Linked DNA regions of Homo sapiens. The protein of the gene in region 1 interacts with the protein of each later gene in a biochemical or structural test. Each region holds a gene or a part of one and is shown in the gene's direction. Other genes may lie near its edges.

Region 1 (3,500 bases):
TAGAAATATTGTACGAACAATGTTATATTTTATTAAGTAATTAAGAAAATAAGTCATTGCATATACGAATTATTCATTAGAAAACAGTGATGATTTATACCTGCTTCAGATGGCACTATTTTTATCAAAAATGGCTTATCACATTATTTGAAGTATGTATTAGTCCCTTTTCACAATGCTGATAAACACATACCCAAGACTGGGCAATTTACAAAAGAAAGAGTTTTAATGGACTCACAGTTTCACGTGGCTGGGGAGACCTCACAATCATGGCAGAAGGTGAAAGGCACATCTCGAATGATGGCAGACAAGAGAAGAGAGTTTGTGCAGGGAAACCTCCCTTTATAAAACCATCAGAGCTCGTGAGACTTATTCACTATCATGAGAATAGCACAGGAAAGATCCGCCCCATAATTCAATTACCTCCCACCAGGTTCTTCCCACAACACATAGGAATTGTGGGAGCTACAATTCAAGATGAGATTTGGGTGAGGACACAGCCAATCCATATCAAAGTATTTATAGATATTAATAAAAGTTATAACTATACATTGCATATGTATATTATATCACATATTTGATAACTATTTACTTTTATATAACTTTCAGATTATTGACCTACTTAAAAATCTTCAAGGGTACAACTTAATATCCTGATTATAATAAACAGCCTACAAAATATTGGGAAAGATGGACAATCAGGATGTTTAAATATAGAGAGGATATAAGATTGTACTAAGAAAATATTATTAATTTGGTGAAATGTAAAAGATATTTTGTATATGTAGGCAAATGTCTTTATGAGATAGCATTCTGAAGAATTTAGGACTAAAATTTCACTGTCATTTACTTTCAATTACTTCACAAAAAATAAGTAAATAGGGCAAAGTGTAACATTTTTATATCTAGGTAATCAGTTTATAAGTGTTCATTATGCATTCTTTCTCCTTTCATTTGCTCAAAATTGTTCATCATGAAAAGTGTCAATATTTGAGGAAACGAATGCAGTCAATACACTATGTACACTGCAAAAAACACATGTCCCCAAAAATAGAAGTGCAATATAAAGGCAATTAATTTCTAAGTCAAAAATTTAGTAACTCCACATTTTTCTATACTTATAAGACCATTTAAGCATTATTTATGGTTTCTTTATAATAGGACAAGTACGATCATGTGGTCCACCTCCTCAACTCTCCAATGGTGAAGTTAAGGAGATAAGAAAAGAGGAATATGGACACAATGAAGTAGTGGAATATGATTGCAATCCTAATTTTATAATAAACGGGCCTAAGAAAATACAATGTGTGGATGGAGAATGGACAACTTTACCCACTTGTGTTGGTAAATAAATATTAACATTTAAACAGGACAGTTACTATTACTTTGCACTTATATATAAATACACATGTAAACAGATTTAAAATATTTTCAGAGTAAGCACTCATTTTATTACATTTTCTTAGAACAAGTGAAAACATGTGGATACATACCTGAACTCGAGTACGGTTATGTTCAGCCGTCTGTCCCTCCCTATCAACATGGAGTTTCAGTCGAGGTGAATTGCAGAAATGAATATGCAATGATTGGAAATAACATGATTACCTGTATTAATGGAATATGGACAGAGCTTCCTATGTGTGTTGGTGAGAAAACATTCCTAAACTTTATATTTGATTATTTATCATTTTGATTGGGATTGTATAAAGTGTATAAATCTGGCTAGAATTACAATTTTATTGATACTGACTCTTCCTTCCACAAGTAAAATATGTCAATCCATTTATTCAGGTCTTACATTAAACTTTACCATATGGTTTTATGAATTTCTTGTTATTACTGCACAGATTTCTTCACCAATTTATTTGGGATTTTTCTGGCATGATGAATGGAAACTTTTATTAATGTATATGCTTGAATAGTTATACTTTCTATATGCAAGAATGTGATTTAATTGCATACATTATTTTTGTTTCCAGTAACCTTGTTGAATTTCTGTATTAGTTCTAATATTTAATTGGGATATTGTATTTCTACAAATGATGGCGATTTAATTTCTTTTATTTCATTGCTTTAACTTAGTCTTTACCTCAGCATGTTCCAGATAGAACAACCTAAAAAATAGCAATGTAGCTTGAGTTCTATTAAATTCCAGAGTGTTTGGAATCCCTTCATAGAAGAAGAGTAGGGGACTAGGACCCAGGAACTAGGCATGATCCTTGCTCTTTCTGGTCCCATAATTCTCTTATTTCTATTCCTAATTATCTACTTAGTTTGTCGGTTTCCTCCACAGAAGTAGTAAGTAGTAAGTAGTAAGTAAGTAGTAAGTAGTAAGTAGTAGTAGTCTATCAGCCTGTGTGCTCTACTCTTACCTTGCAGCCTCAGGACTTCCAGCCTTGACACTTAAGTACTTGCAGGTATTTTTTTTCCCGACACCCTCAGATCCTGGCCTCTTTTGTCCTATCTCTAGCAACCTCAATACATTAAAGCCTCTAATTTTGAACTTTAAAGACAAGCAGACTTTCCGCCGCTGTTCTCCTCCTTACAGAAACTGAAACAGAACCGCCTCTCTCTCCATCTCCTGGACTTTTGGATAATCAACTGGCCCACTCATTGCTGGGAAAAATTACTGTAGGTGTTGCCAGCCGTTGTCCCAGCAAATACCTGGTCAGTGGCCATCCGTGATGACCTATTGTGAGGGAATGTTTTCCACTACCAGGAGCCAGAACGCTGTTATGGGAAGATGTAGATCATATATCTTCATGGTCATCAACTTTTATGCAAGGAGTACATAAATATCAACCTCTAGCCCCATATGGGGTGAATTAAAAATAGAAACTATTGCAGAAAACACCTGTAAGCATAGAAGTAGCAGAGCACACTCCATGTCTCATTATCCCATCCTTTTACACACTAAGGAAAAGGCTCCATAACTATCTACATGTTTATGGGAAACGGGAAAAAAATGTAACAATGAGAACTACTTAGACAAGCAAGAGGCTTAGTAGGAATTTATGTTCTGAAGCTCAGTTGTGTTATTATCAGTGAGTTCTTCCCCTGAGAATACTCTGACTTACTGAGTCAGAGTTTTTGCTGAGCTTTTGAAATGTGAGTCATTGAACCTCAAGGGGGACCCAGATCTATCTCTTACTGATGCTTTGCTTCCTGCAGACTTACCCATGTATTGCCTCTTTTTATTATTTAAATGTTTTGAAGATATTTAAGATAGTTTAGTGCAAAACAATCATACATGTGTACATTTTCAGAGCCTCTAACAATTCATTTGTAGCTTCCTAAGAACTATCTTTCAGTCAAAACTCCCACTAGGAAAACCTATCTTGCACTTTCATTTCCCAGAAAACTTTCTGACCTACTTTCCTGTCATTCAAAGATGGGATACAGTTTTTTGTTTTATTTTTTCTTTTTCCAACAGCATTGTCTATTTTGTGCAATGAGATTAAGAATAAGTTTTGTGATGTTGCTTAAAAGCATCAAACATA
Region 2 (4,284 bases), on another chromosome or scaffold:
ACTCCATTCTCCTGCCTCAGCCTCCTGAGTAGCTGGGACTACAGGTGCTCGCCACCTTACCCAGCTAATTTTTTGCATTTTTAGTAGAGACGGGGTTTCACCGTGTTAGCCAGGATGGTCTCGATCTCCTGACCTTGTGATCCACCCGCCTCAGCCTCCCAAAGTGCTGGGATTACAGGTGTGATTGAACACTACTTTATTGAAACTTTATAGAGACTATATCAAATGCCCATGGATATGGTGATTTTTTTCAGTGATTTTTATTTGATTTTAATTAACACAGCTGGAAGAAAAGATGTACCTAGCAATTTCATTTGAAAATAGAATCACTGCCTCATTAAAAATTAATTTTAAAAAATCTTCAAAAGTTCAAATTATTTAGTGAAAAAGTATCAAAGCATGACAGAGCCAGTTTTGTGTTTTAGTATTGTAGTTACTTTTATATGATTATCTGAATGCCAATATTTTATTTGACTATCCCTAACACTAAAGGATAAGGTTCATATTTGTTTAATGTTTTCAGGATAGAGCCTACCCCTGAGCCACTTGTAGGAATCTGACATAGTTTACCACACTTTTACATGGATGTTTGGTTTCTGCAAGTTCTTTCTCTTTACCAGTTATTCTGGAACCATTCTGGGAGTTTGCTTTTCAAAGCTGTCTTATGGCATATCTTCTTTAGGTTGTTATACCTGCCCTAATTTAGGTGTTTTTAAAAAAATACCTACATACACATACACACATATATATACACACACATTTATATACATATATGTATGTATACATACATACATATCCATATGTATATATGTGTGTATATATACGTATACATACATATATATATATTTATGTATATAGATGCAGAGCTCACCTGTTCTTTCCCAGGGACACGTAAAAGGTTTTCGTTTCAGCATCTCCAGCTTCCCAAATGGCTAAGTCGCCTTGAGATGGACAATGGTGGAAACTTACTGAGCTTTCCACCTCAAATTTGAAAGTCCCCCTCCCAAGTGCTCTTTAGCAGAAACATGTTCTCCAACCAGGCCCCTTGAAAGAATGTACTTCTCTTAAAGATTTTCAATTACTGCTTAAATAGTAATTATAAGCATGTGGACAAGGTAGAATTTTTAAACACATTTTTGGTCTATTCAGCTCTTAAGTGCTACATACTTGCTGCTTACAGACTTGCAGAATATTAGGAGCAGAATGGAAGGGCCTTTTTTAGATAACGCTAAAGCCTAGAGGAAATTATGGTGCTCATCCAAAGTTGCATGGCTCATTAGTAGTAACACCATCTGGATTCTAGCCCTCCTAGAGAAATCTAGGGGTTCTATTAATAAGAGGCACTGTAGTGTGCTGATTAAGGGCGTGGCCTCTGTGACCAGACTGCAAAAATTCAAACTCTAGTTTTACTGCTTATCAGCTATGTAAACATAGATAAGTTACTTTTACCTAAGTTTTCTCATCTGTAAAATAGGAATGTAAAAGACTATCTCTTATGGTTGGCATAAGGATTAAAATGACAAACAAAATGATTAGAACAGTATCTGATACATAGTGAATGCCCAATAAGCTTAGTCATCATTATTATACATTGTTGCCTTTCAAAGGTAGTTTTCTAAAAACTCTGCAAAGTTTACAAATATCTGAGAACATTTGGTGTATTAAAATGTATTCTGCAGGCCAGGTGTGGTGGCTCATGCCTGTAATCCCAGCATTTTGGGAGGCTGAGGCAGGCGGATCTTGAGGTCAGGAGTTCAAGACCAACCTGGCCAACATGGTGAAACCCCGTGTCTAAAAAAAAAATACAATAGTTAGCTGGGCGCAGTGGTGTGCACCTGTAGTCCCAGCTACTCCGGAAGCTGAGGCAGGAGAATCGCTTGAACCTGGGAAGCGAAGGTTGCCGTGAGTCGAGATCGCACTACTGCAATCCAGCCTGGGTGACAGAGTGAGACTCTGTCTCAAAAAAAAAAAAAAATGTATTCTGCAATAACATCACTATCCTAGAATTTTGCTGAAAAATGCATGTTGGTAAAGGCTAAATGGAGCGAACTAGGTCTACTGAATTTCACAGGTTTATTATTTTAGGAACTTGGTGGTGGCAAAAAGAGAGAACCAGGTTGGGTTCTGAATTCTTGGAAATTATAGAATTATTGTCTGAAGTTAACTGATAGTGATTCAACTTTTTTAAAAAAAAGCAGTAACAAAGAAAATATGCAAATTGGAAGGGGAGGTAGTTATGGCTTTTATTATTTTGTGGGTTTGGACTAGTTGGCTCTTCTATTTGCGTGCTTTCTCTTCATTTAGATGCTTCATTGGATAAGACAATTGGCTTTCCTTTTTCTCATTTTCTTTGCTCTGCAGAGATTACAGTGGAAGCTTCTTAAGTCGTAATGTAGGGTTTCACATAGCTTTCAATTGTAATAATTAAAATTCTTATGTTAAATAACTAATGCCAGAATAATTCTGAATTAATTTATATTTTCTTTAATATTCTTCTTATTTTCTTGCTACTCTAGGTTGTGAAACAGCTATTTTATTCCCAATGCGTTCCAAGAAGATTTTTGGAAGCGTGCATCCAGTGAGACCAATGAGGCTTGAGTCTTTTAGTGCCTGCATTTGGGTCAAAGCCACAGATGTATTAAACAAAACCATCCTGTTTTCCTATGGCACAAAGAGGAATCCATATGAAATCCAGCTGTATCTCAGCTACCAATCCATAGTGTTTGTGGTGGGTGGAGAGGAGAACAAACTGGTTGCTGAAGCCATGGTTTCCCTGGGAAGGTGGACCCACCTGTGCGGCACCTGGAATTCAGAGGAAGGGCTCACATCCTTGTGGGTAAATGGTGAACTGGCGGCTACCACTGTTGAGATGGCCACAGGTCACATTGTTCCTGAGGGAGGAATCCTGCAGATTGGCCAAGAAAAGAATGGCTGCTGTGTGGGTGGTGGCTTTGATGAAACATTAGCCTTCTCTGGGAGACTCACAGGCTTCAATATCTGGGATAGTGTTCTTAGCAATGAAGAGATAAGAGAGACCGGAGGAGCAGAGTCTTGTCACATCCGGGGGAATATTGTTGGGTGGGGAGTCACAGAGATCCAGCCACATGGAGGAGCTCAGTATGTTTCATAAATGTTGTGAAACTCCACTTGAAGCCAAAGAAAGAAACTCACACTTAAAACACATGCCAGTTGGGAAGGTCTGAAAACTCAGTGCATAATAGGAACACTTGAGACTAATGAAAGAGAGAGTTGAGACCAATCTTTATTTGTACTGGCCAAATACTGAATAAACAGTTGAAGGAAAGACATTGGAAAAAGCTTTTGAGGATAATGTTACTAGACTTTATGCCATGGTGCTTTCAGTTTAATGCTGTGTCTCTGTCAGATAAACTCTCAAATAATTAAAAAGGACTGTATTGTTGAACAGAGGGACAATTGTTTTACTTTTCTTTGGTTAATTTTGTTTTGGCCAGAGATGAATTTTACATTGGAAGAATAACAAAATAAGATTTGTTGTCCATTGTTCATTGTTATTGGTATGTACCTTATTACAAAAAAAAGATGAAAACATATTTATACTACAAGGTGACTTAACAACTATAAATGTAGTTTATGTGTTATAATCGAATGTCACGTTTTTGAGAAGATAGTCATATAAGTTATATTGCAAAAGGGATTTGTATTAATTTAAGACTATTTTTGTAAAGCTCTACTGTAAATAAAATATTTTATAAAACTAGCTCACGTCATTTAATTATAAATTTAAGAGATGTTTTGGAGCAAACTCGTACTTTTCTCTTTTCATTTAAAGTAGGCAATTAGTTTTCAGATACTATTATGTAAACAGCATGGTTAATATTGTTAGGAATGAGCAACTATAGACTTGTTTTAAGTTTGGCTTCCTATAAATCATAAGCAAGAAATATTATCTCTGCCAAGTCAATTCATCTCTGTGGGTTTTAGTTTTCTCAGCTGAGAAATCAAGGAATTGATGAAATAAGAATCTCTAGGACTCTTCCCATTTGACAATTCTAGGAGCTTATACAACTTTCTGTACTGTGTAACATAAAAACAAACACCAAACATGAATTATCACAGTTCCTCAGATACACATGATGCTGCAAGACATGGCTTAGGAATGTTATTTGGGAGACCTAAGAATCTGGAAAAGAACTCCTGCCCTGAAAGCACACCCCATTCTCTTCCTTACTCAGAAGGGAGAGGTCAAGCCCCTTCACACTGTGGATGGGGAGGTAACTTTTCCCCACCACACTAGTATTCTCC

The links.
Region 2: the proteins of CFHR5 (region 1) and PTX3 form a complex in vitro, tested with the Homo sapiens proteins (one study listed by IntAct).

The regions. Positions count from the first base shown.
Region 1 is NC_000001.11:196,994,556-196,998,055, forward strand, and holds part of CFHR5 (complement factor H-related protein 5 precursor), read left to right. Parts: intron 1-1,161; coding exon 1,162-1,344; intron 1,345-1,466; coding exon 1,467-1,646; intron 1,647-3,500. UniProt on the Homo sapiens protein: Involved in complement regulation. The dimerized forms have avidity for tissue-bound complement fragments and efficiently compete with the physiological complement inhibitor CFH.
Region 2 is NC_000003.12:157,439,850-157,444,133, forward strand, and holds the end of PTX3 (pentraxin-related protein PTX3 precursor), read left to right. Parts: intron 1-2,516; coding exon 2,517-3,130; 3' UTR 3,131-3,784; downstream 3,785-4,284.